3 linked regions of the Homo sapiens genome follow. The protein of the gene in region 1 purifies or fractionates together with the protein of each later gene. This does not show direct contact. Each region holds a gene or a part of one and is shown on either strand. Other genes may lie near its edges. The genes, in order: ME1, PPWD1 and TBCD.

Region 1 (3,654 bases):
AAAATCCCTCTTATTTGAGAACCACTGTCTATCTGGAGTAATCAAGCCTAGAAAAGTGCTGAACGTGCCAGGTATTAACAGGCTGAGTTAGAGGAGGGGGCCATACGCTTCATCTCAGATCAGTAAGAGAAAGACGACAGGACTAAAGTTAAAAATCTAGGTCTCTACAGGGTACTGTCGCTTGAGCGAACGTGTAGTTTTTTGAATTCAAAAAGGCTAAATTATACCTCAAAAATTGGTAGTAAAAAAAACAATCAGGTCAAAATAAGGGGTAGGGGAGAAGGGAGAGGAGAAAATGCTTACCTATGAGGGCAGTTGGTTTTATTTCTTGAACAATGGCTTCTAGGTTCTTCATTTCTTCATGTTCATGGGCAAACTTCTCTTTCTCTTGTGTTAAGGAAGCACGTCCCTAAGTAAAGCCAGTAAGAAAAAATTAAGAATCTGCCAAACATGTGAGGGTCAATAAATTTCGGTACATATATTACAAATATTTATGCTTAACATTTTTATGTATGATGTGTTACAGCTATTCTTAAAATCTCTTCTTCAATTGTCAGAATGTTATTTCATTCATTCGTTTAACAAATATTTATATGTCAATGTTCTAGGCAATGGAGATGTAACAGTGAACAAAACAAAGTCCTTCATTTAATTGATATTAAAAATCCTAATTTTACAGACATGTGAGAACTAGCATTAACAAATGGCCATGCAAAATATAATTTAAATAATTATATTGTTCGTCACACATTGTGTTTTATAGCAGGTCTCAGAATTTGGAGTTGGCTTCAGCTTTAGCCCTACCAATTTATGCTACTGACTAAGAAAAGAATTTGAAGTCATATTTATGTCATTGTTAGATTTTCTCAGTAAGTATGCATTTTATATGTTTTTGTTTTTAATGTTCTGATTATGAATGCGCCATGTGTTATCTAGTAAACATCTAATTATAATATTCTAGCTGCAAATTTTAAAGATTTGACTACATAATGGATCACTGCCTAATTTTATATGGTACTTGATGACTTACAAGTTGTTTTCACATATTTCATTTGATCCCCTCAACAATTCTGAGAAGCAGGACAAGTATAAGTATAGTCATTTTACATATGCGGAAACATGTTCAGAGGTTTTAAGGGACTTGCTCAAGGCAAGAGATTGTACTAGAACTCAAAGCCTTTTCAATATAGCACAGAATCACCCCGGGCAAAAACTTAACAAATAGTATGTCATAGTCTTTGCAAATTGTTAATAATGAAGATAGTACAATTTTCTTTCTTTAAAGGGTATTATCATTTTATTTCTGTTGCTTTTGTTTGTTTGAAATGAGGTCTCATTTTGTCATGCAAGTTGGAGTGCTGTGGATCAGAGGTCACTGCAGCCTTGAACTCCTGGGGTCAAGGGATCCTCCCACCTAAGCCTCTCTAGTAGCTGGAACTACAGGCATGCACCACCATGCTTGGCTAATTTATCATTTTTTTTTAGAGATGGGGGTCTCGCTATATTGCCCAGGGTTGTCTCGAACTTCTGGCCTCAGGAGTGATCTTTTCGCTTCAGCCTCCTGAGTCACTAGGATTATAGGCGTGAGCCACCATGCCAGGCTCTGTTTTTTTTTGTTGTTGTTGTTGTTGTTGTTGTTTTTAATTTTGTTTTGTTTGTCTTTTTTTTTTGAGACAGAGTTTTTGCTCATGTTGCCCAGGCTGGAGTGCAGTGGCGCGATCTCGGCTCACCGCAACCTCCGCCTCCCGGGTTAAAGCTATTCTCCTGCCTCAGCCTTCCAAGTAGCTGGGATTACAGGCATGTGCCCGGCTAATTTTATATTTTTAGTAGAGACAGGCTCTGTTTTTAAAAGCAATATACTGAATTATTAAAAAATTTGAAACATATGAACCTCTTTGTGCTTGTCTCCTCATCTGTAAATAAGGATAATAAGGACTTCTACCTCATCAGGTTGTTTGTGGGGTAAATGAAATGTAATGCATGTAAAACACTCAGGACTGTACCTGGTTTATAGTAAGAGCTCTATGCTAGTTGTTGTTGCAATTAAAATTTTTGTGAAGAAGAAAAAAATCATAATTCCAGCACTTAAAGTTTTGGTATATTTTCTCCTATTAATAATCTGCTGTAGGCCAGGCGCAGTGGCTCATGCCTGTAATCCCAGCACTTTGGGAGGCTGAGGCGGGCGGATCACGAGGTCAGGAGATCGAGACCATCCTGGTTAACACGGTGAAACCCCGTCTCTACTAAAAATATACAAAAAATTAGCTGGGCGTGGTGGCAGGAGCCTGTAGTCCCAGCTACTCAGGAGGCTGAGGCAGGAGAATGGCATAAACCCAGGAGGCAGAGCTTGCAGTAAGCCAAGATCACACCACTGCACTCCAGCCTGGGCGACAGCGAGACTCTGTCTCAAAAAAATAAAAAATAAAAAAAAGAAATGATTAGCCAGTTTTGAGAATCAGTGTACTAAATGATCTATCATATCCCTACCACATGCGTTTTTAAGAGGTTATGTGCTATGTTTTCAAAAAAGTATACAATAATGAGTCTAAAGAAGAAAAGCTATAGAATAAGATAAATTGGAAGTCACAGCTTTTTTGGCTGTCAAGCTGAGATATAATGAAAAATATTTAAATTGCCTAGAATGGGAAACAAATAATAAAAAAGACAGATGAATAATGTATGAAAAGAAAAAGATATATACTTAATCATAAACATCTTTATTAATCATAGTATACCCACTGGCAGCTCCTAGACACTGAAGCCAGAACTTAGCCAGAAGACATTCCATCTAGTAAGAAGCATAAATTACCCATGGCAACACTTTCAAAGGCTTGATTCCTGGTATGACTTACAAGTGCTGAAAGAATGCTGAAAAAAGTCCAGGAATCACGAAATGGTAATACTAGCAATACTGAAGGTCTTACTTGACAAAACAGAAGAAGCAAAAGACACACACACAAAATGTCTCCCAAGTATGTTCTCTACCATTTTCAAAATTGACTTGATGACCTAGTTTAAAGAAACTACTGGAATGTGACAACCTTTTCTAAATCCGGTAATACTGAGGCAACTACCTGTACCTTTGGACTTCTATTTTCTAGACTAATGGCTTATTTTTCTTTATTTTTCAAAATCTGATTTGGAATACATATTCGTTATGCCAATAACTTCAGTTGGTATGGAGATGAGTAGATGTCTTTTCCCTTCATTCTCCCTTTTCAGGATCCCTTGCTGAAATCCTTTTGCCTTCTTTTGGCAAAGTGCATGTGGGCACCTCTCACCTCAGAAATCCCAAATTCTATGATGCATCTTTTCTCTCTCTGTTTTTTTCAAGAGTCTCTAATTACCTCAAACATATTATGGATAGCTGAAACTTTATTTGTGATATTATTACTTTAATCTCCCCTATCCCTTTATATTGTGATGATTCTTACTATATCGTAGAAGATATAACCAGATTTAATTACTACCTTTTCAAAAGCACATGTTTATAGTGGGCATAGGGAGGAGAATGGGGGCAAAGGCTGCCAAGATTTTGGGCTATTATTCCACAGCCCAGGATAGGAATAAGTAAATTAATTCTAGATTACCAGTGATAAATATTTATTCCTTCCTACATACAGGGACTAGAAAAACTCTTCCACAAGCCCCAGT
Region 2 (3,654 bases), on another chromosome or scaffold:
AGGCTTTCACTAGTCATCCTGTCTTGCACAGTTTTTTTATTTTTTATTATTTATTTATTTAATTAATTTATTTTCTGAGACAGAGTTGCACTTGAGTGCAGTGGCATGATCCAGCTCACTGCAACCTCCGCCCCCTGGGTTCAAGCGATTCTCCTGTCTCAGCTTCCCAAGTAGCTGGGACTATAGGCGTGTGCCACCACACTTAGCTAATATATATATATATATATTTTTTTTTTATTAGAGATGGGTTTTTTTTAGTACAGATGGTTTTTTTTTTTTTTTTTTTTTTTTTTTTTTTTTTTTTAAGTACAGACGGGTTTCACCGTGTTAGCCAGGCTGGTCTTGAACTCCTGGCCTCAAGTGATCTGCCTGCCTTGGCGTCCCAAAGTGCTGGGATTACAGGTGTGAGGCACGGTGCCAAGCCAGCAGAGTTTTTTTTAATGTGACTGTAGATCACTGTTTCTTTTAGAGCATTTGATATGGTCATATTATTTGATTAATGTGTATCACCTCCAGTAGACTAAGCCCTATGTGATCTGTTTTAACTTATGATTCTATCTCCAGCAGTGAGAACAGTACCTCACACAAGAGTTACTCAAATATTTTGAAAGAGTGACTCTAGCCATCACTTGTTAGACTGCTAACAAGAATTTGTTACAGCATGTAGTCGTGGAATAAGAGTTTTTAATCCATGCAGTTAAGCGGTTTCTGTGATTGCAACTATTGCCATCAAGTGGTTCTCTGAATCCTCTGAGTCTGGATTGAACCTTTGTAGCAAAGTTTATTGTATGACAGTGTCAGTTCTTTTGTCCTTGGCAGTGACCAATTTGCATTGGATTCCCTGCTGTAAGCTCTTCATAAATTCTGTCAACTCTTTCTAGTGGCGATCTTGATTTGGTGGCACGTGGTAATAAATGAGTTGGTTGTCTGTCTGTCTGAAGTAATATATTTCCAGACAAATGTGAAGATCTGTTTGCCAGCCAAATTATCCTTATGACAAATTTTCTTGTTGGAAGAAGATAGCTTTCCACTCTGCTTTTAAGGAGAAACATTTATCGGTAATACTTTCTTTAATGGTGGCAGATAACTAAATATGACTTGCAATTTAAATATAATTTTAAAATTCTATTAACTTGCAGCTCTTCCAAGATCCCTTAGGCAAAGAAATATTCAGAATCTAGTCTCTGGACACAAATCTCTTTTTTTTTTTTTTTTTTTTTTTTTTGAGACGGAGTCTCGCCCTGTTGCCCAGGCCGGACTGCGGACTGTAGTGGCTCAATCGCGGCTCACTGCAAGCTCCGCTTCCCGGGTTCACGCCATTCTCCTGCCTCAGCCTCCCGAGTAGCTGGGACTACAGGCGCCCGCCACTGCGCCCGGCTAATTTTTTGTATTTTTAGTAGAGACGGGGTTTCACCTTGTTAGCCAGGATGGTCTCGATCTCCTGACCTCATGATCCACCCGCCTCGGCCTCCCAAAGTGCTGGGATTACAGGCGTGAGCCACCGCGCCCGGCCGGCACAAATCTCTTAACACACATACTCTGAGCTGCTCAATCCACTCTATTTGCTCATTGTTGTCTTCAACATTTGCTTAAATGATTAGCCTGAGGTGACAAGAAGTCAGTAGTAGAACTTAAGACAGAAGTGGAGATTCAGAATGAGAGTTTGCCAAAAAAGCCAACCATCAGTTAAATTACTTACAGTGCTAGTGACTAGTAAATGACTGGAATCTCAAGGAGGTGGTAGTGGAGGAGGGTAGTTTCTAACCAGTCGGAATCCTAGTTTAACAGAAAAGAAATTGAATGGGATGGTGTAAATTATCTTTTAGTATTTATTAACCAGGGTCACTATATATGGCTGTGCAGTTGAATATCACAGAAGCCCTGCTATGAAGTCTAGAGCACTCTGAAAAAGATTCTGATCAGGTACTTACCAGGTTGGATAACATTTATGGAATACTTATATAGGGACAGATGACCACCTACAGACCTTATGCCTTAAAAACTGAGTCTTCTCTCCGGCAGAAATGATCATTAGCCCTTCCCTGCAAAATGTGTAGTCCAGCATCCTAGGCTATTCCTGGCACATGAATAAGCAGCGTAATATGTATCAGTCTCCCTGTCTTTGAGACTAGAGACAAGAAAACCTAACAACTAGGCTTTTTAACTGTTCTGTAAGACCTTGACCTTGTGCTTATACCCTAACACACATACCTCATTTTGATTTTTTGAGTTTTGTATATAGTTCTAACCTTATCTAGAAAACACAAGATTATGGTTAATATAAGCATGAAATAAGGATAGAATTAGATGGGACAGAAGTCTGGCTTATTTTCATCTGCAATGGAGAGCTATTTTTGAATGCTACTGTTTGATGCCCTGATTGTGTAGAAAAGAATGTAAAGATCGTTACTCTTTTGGAAGGTTCATAATATGTTAATACAGTTATTGAGATGTGATGCCTATCTTGAAATTTGTGTAATATCAAAAGAAAAGTAAACCAAATTTCCAAACTATAAAGGACACTTATAGAAATAGTCATGTCTACTAAATAACATGTACCTAATGGTAATCTCACTGCCCTGTGTCAGAATAACTTGAGACATTTTCTGAAATATTATGAATTTGTTATAAATTAGTGAGATGAATTCATTCAGCAAAAATTGAGTGCTTGTTATGTCAGGCACGTAACCTTGCTCAAGGACCTCATAGTCTATAGCTGCATTATCCAGTATAAACAGTCACTAGCCACGTGTCTACTGAGCATTTGATAGATGGCTAGTCCAAACTGAGATATGCTGAAAGTGTAAAATACAAGATTTCAAAGACTTAATTTTTTTTAAAAGAATGTAAGTTATCTCAATTTTTTATATTGTTGAGATGATATTCTGGATATTTTGAGTTTAATCAAACATTAAAATGAAATTCACCTGTTTTCTTTATACTTTGTTTAATGTTACTAGACACTTTAAAATTACCTATGTGGCTTGTGTTATATTTCATTGGAAAGTGCTACTCTGTGACTTTTAAAAGGCAGCAGATGTATTCTGTAGAGAAAGCAGTAGTTCTATTAACCAACCGGGTTTTGTTTTAAATTAGAAGAACCAGTTACCATTTTGAAATACAATTTTTTTTTTTTTTTTTTTTTGAGACGGAGTCTCACTCTGTCCCCCAGGCCAGAGTGCAGTGGCGCAATTTCGGCTCACTGCAGCGTCTGCCTCCTAGGTTCAAGCGATTCTCTTGCCCCAGCCTCCCGAGTAGCTGGGATTACAGGCACACATCACCATGCCCGGCTAAGTTTTTATGTTTTTAGTGGAGACGGGGTTTCACCATGTTGGCCAGGCTGTTCTTGAACTGATGTCAGGTGATCCACCTGCCTTGGCCTCCCAAAATGCTGGGATTAGAGGCATAAGCCACCATGCCCAGCCTGAAATACTATTTTTTAGTGATTGGACTTACTAATGTCTATTTCATATTGTTTAGAATCCCTCTTAAGAAGTACAAACAGTTAGTGGCTCTTAATATGTATTCTGCTTCTATTTAAATTCTCATTGCATATATAGATAGATGGGTTGATATAGATATAGGTATATGTATATAGAGTTTTTGTTACTAAATGGTTTATTTCCTAGATGTTTACTGAACTGCAACAGATGA
Region 3 (3,654 bases), on another chromosome or scaffold:
GAAAAAAAAAAAAGCAAAAGGGTGGAAAAATGTGCAACAAATGACAAAGGACCAGCATCCCACGACTACATTTTCCTTTTTCTAAAAAGGAATTCCAGAAAATAATGAACTCAGCTGGGCACGCTGGCTCACACCTGAAATCCCAGCACTTTAGGAGGCCAAGGTGGGTGAACCGCTTGAACCCAGAGGTATGAGACCAGCCTGGGCAACACGGCAAGACCCCTTCTCTACAAAAAAAAAAATTTATTTATTTATTTATTTTTTTTTTTTTTTTTTTCCGAGACGTTTTCGTTCTTGTTGCCCAGGCTGGAGTACAATGGCACGATCTTGGCTCACTGCAACCTCTGCCTCCTGGGTTCGGGCAATTCTCCTGCTTCAGCCCCAAGTAGCTGGGATTACAGGCGTGCACCACACGCGGCTAATTTTTGCATTTTTAGTAGATACGGGGTTTCACTATGTTGGTCAGGCTGGTCTCAAACTCCTGACCTCAGGTGATCCACCCGCCCCGGCCTCCCAAAGTGCTGGGATTACAGGCATAAGCCACCACACCCGGCGAAAAACAGTTTTTGCAAAGAAAGAAAATAACTCTAAAAATCATTCGCAGTACTCTAAGCAGCTCACAACAAGTGTTAATATTCCATGATCCACTCTGGAAAGAGGTCTGGCAAGAATAAAGGCATTTAACTACAGGTCCAACGTTGTTACTTGAAGAGATATAAAAACACCACCCGCTACCTTGTGAGCAGTGACCACATCTGTTTCCTGGGAACCAGCGCTCACACACAGGAACTCCAGGAACCCAAGACCTCCTATAAGATATGGCCTGGGGAGCCCACTGCCTGCCACGCCATCCAGCATGGCTAGCCCCTCCACCAGATGTCAGAGTCATGTTCCCTGCAGCTGACCCTCTCCCAAGGACCTCTATCTTTGGTCTCCTTCACAAGGCCTATAAATTTTTCTAGGACAGAAGGACAAGTCTGATCCCAATGAATTCTTGAATCCCGAATTTAGAGGGTTTTTTTTGGTTTTTTTTTTTTTTTGAGATGAAGTCTCACTCTGTCACCCAGGCTGGAGTGCAGTGACGTGATCTCAGCTCACTGCAAGCTCCGCCTCCCGGGTTCACGCCATTCTCCTGCCTCAGCCTCCCAAGTAACTGGGACTACAGGCAACTGCCAGCATGCCCAGCTAACGTTTTGTATTATTAGTAGAGACAGGGTTTCATCGTGTTAGCCATGCTGGTCTCGAACTCCCGACCTCAAGTGATCCACCCGCCTCCACCTCCCAAAGTGCTGGGATTACAGGCATGAGCCACCACCCCCAGCCAAAATCTGTTATTTGAAGAAAAAAAAACAGAACAAGATGCACAGCACAAACTACTCTTTAAGAGGCACGTGTGCGCACATGAAAGGCTGACCCTTAGTGTCTCTCACACAGATCTCAACACCACGGGGGGCGAGGAAACCCCGGCAAAGAGCAGCTCAAAAACTGAATGGTGAAACTGGGCTATGAAGCCAGGGTGCCCCCACCCAGGGTGCTCCCTCTCAACGTGGTGACTATTGCCACCTTCCTCTTTCCCAGGTGAACTGCCAGAAGCATGTGTCACATTTGTAGGTAGAAAAAGAAAAATTTTAATCAGTGTGAAATACATCAAAAATAAAGAAAACAATAAGAAACCACACCCCTTACACTAAAGTAAGAAAACCGAGCCTCAGTGTCCCCATCTGTAAACTGGAGATGACAACAGATGCCCTCCTTAGCTGCTGTGAGGATTAAATGATGACCCATGTAAAACACCTGACCCTGTATGACTATTACCAGAAAAACATCATGTGCCCAAATGTAAACTAAAATAATAAACTAATGTAAACTAAAAACACTTGAGGAGGCCAGGCGCGGTGGCTCACGCCTGTAATCCCAGCACTTTGGGAGGCCGAGGCAGGCGGATCACGAGGTCAGGAGATCAAGACCATCCTGGCCAACATAGTGAAACCCCGTCTCTACTAAAAATACAAAAATTAGCTGGGCATGGTGGCGCATGCCTGTAATCCCAGCTACTCGGGAGGCAGAGGCAGGAGAATCCCTTGAACCAGGGAGCTGGAGGATGCAGTGAGCTGAGATCGCGCCACAGCACTCTAGCCTGGAGACAGAGCGAGACTCCGTCTCAAAAAAAAGAAAAAAAAACAAAAAAAACACATGAGGAGCAGATGTTGTTTCCTTAGCAGAAAGGAATTAAGTAGCTCAGACACATCTCCCCCCAGCCTAGAGTGACATCTGGAACTCAAGCCACTATCACAGGTCGGCTAAAACCAACCAGCCAGGCAAGCAAGACAGGGACACTTCTTGGCATTTGATCCTGGCAAAGCACATGCATGTGCCAGCACCACACACCAAGGCCTCCGTGGTCATCTGTAACTGAATGATCAAAATCAGCAGCTTCTATTCTTACCAAGGTGCGGGTCCAACAGATGAGGCTGCTCCTGGTATTTGTCCATTATTACTAAAAACAAATATAACATGAAAATTAATTATCACTAGGCCAAACATACCCATGAGCCTCAGAAACCCCATTTTCCCTTGCTAGCTTCCACAGGGCAGCTCCACCTCTTCCCCAGCTCTCAAGAGCACACCTCCCCTCTCACTAAAGGAGGCCACACAGGCCACCTGGAGGGAATGCCCCACCTCCCTCTAGCCTTTTGAGGGCCACTGTGGCCCAGCCTCGTGCAGTTTACTTGCTTGGCACACTGTTCCTCTTTTCCCACTGCCTCGATACTCTTCCTAACAGAGTCTCCTCCTCGCCTCTTCCTTCCTTCACTCTCTCCTGCCTCTGCCAGCCGTTAAGGGCCAAGCTCAACTCTGTCCTTGTGAGACACACATCCCTGGCACTCCTCTCACACTCCCCTGCCAAACATGCCTGTAAACTAAAAACAAAATTCTAAGCCCCCTAGCCATCTAACAGACCCCTCCTCTTGGCCAAGGGCATTCCAAACTTAACCTGAAAAACTAGTTCAGGCCTCATGATATTAAGGGATTGTGGGGAGTGGTCCACATAGGCCTCATTATACCCTCCTCTCGTTGGAATTCAGGCACAGCTGATCAGTATTAGCATTAAAACCGATCTTAAGTAGCAATAAGACACCAAATTCCAGCCTGACTCTAGTACAGCATCACATGACAGACAGCAGGCCCTGAAAGAAATCAAAATATTTTTCCCTAAAATATATTTGACATATTTTGAAATGGTTCTGCTAAGTTGTCTCTTGCTGGGAAAAGCTACATTCTGTAGAGAATCCCTTCCTTTTCTAGGTCTTTTCCCTGATCCAAGAGAAAATTAACTAAGTCTGGTACCTTTTTAGTCTGATGAAAAGCATTTACAATCTATTCTCTCTGAAACCAGCTAACTGGAACCTTCATCTGCATAAGAAAAACCTTGGTCTCCACAATTTATCTTAACCTAGACAATCCCTTCTATGGATTCCAGGTCTTCAGATAAACTCTTTCAACCAATCACCAATCGTGAAATATTTGAATCCACCAATGCCCTGGACGCCCTCCCACCCAAGATGTCCCGCCTTCCCTGACGAGACCAATGTACATCTTACAGGTATTGATTGATGTCTCACGTCTCCCTAAAACGTGTAAAACTAAGCTGTAGCC

What was found.
Region 2: the proteins of ME1 (region 1) and PPWD1 fractionate together in Homo sapiens (co-fractionation; one large-scale study listed by BioGRID). This does not show direct contact.
Region 3: the proteins of ME1 (region 1) and TBCD fractionate together in Homo sapiens (co-fractionation; one large-scale study listed by BioGRID). This does not show direct contact.

Annotation. Positions count from the first base shown.
Region 1 is NC_000006.12:83,228,523-83,232,176, forward strand, and holds part of ME1 (NADP-dependent malic enzyme), read right to left. Parts: intron 410-3,654; coding exon 304-409; intron 1-303. UniProt on the Homo sapiens protein: Catalyzes the oxidative decarboxylation of (S)-malate in the presence of NADP(+) and divalent metal ions, and decarboxylation of oxaloacetate.
Region 2 is NC_000005.10:65,573,250-65,576,903, forward strand, and holds part of PPWD1 (peptidylprolyl isomerase domain and WD repeat-containing protein 1), read left to right. Parts: intron 1-3,629; coding exon 3,630-3,654. UniProt on the Homo sapiens protein: PPIase that catalyzes the cis-trans isomerization of proline imidic peptide bonds in oligopeptides and may therefore assist protein folding. May be involved in pre-mRNA splicing.
Region 3 is NC_000017.11:82,755,008-82,758,661, reverse strand, and holds part of TBCD (tubulin-specific chaperone D), read right to left. Parts: intron 3,416-3,654; exon of another isoform or gene 3,346-3,415; intron 2,498-3,345; coding exon 2,447-2,497; intron 1-2,446.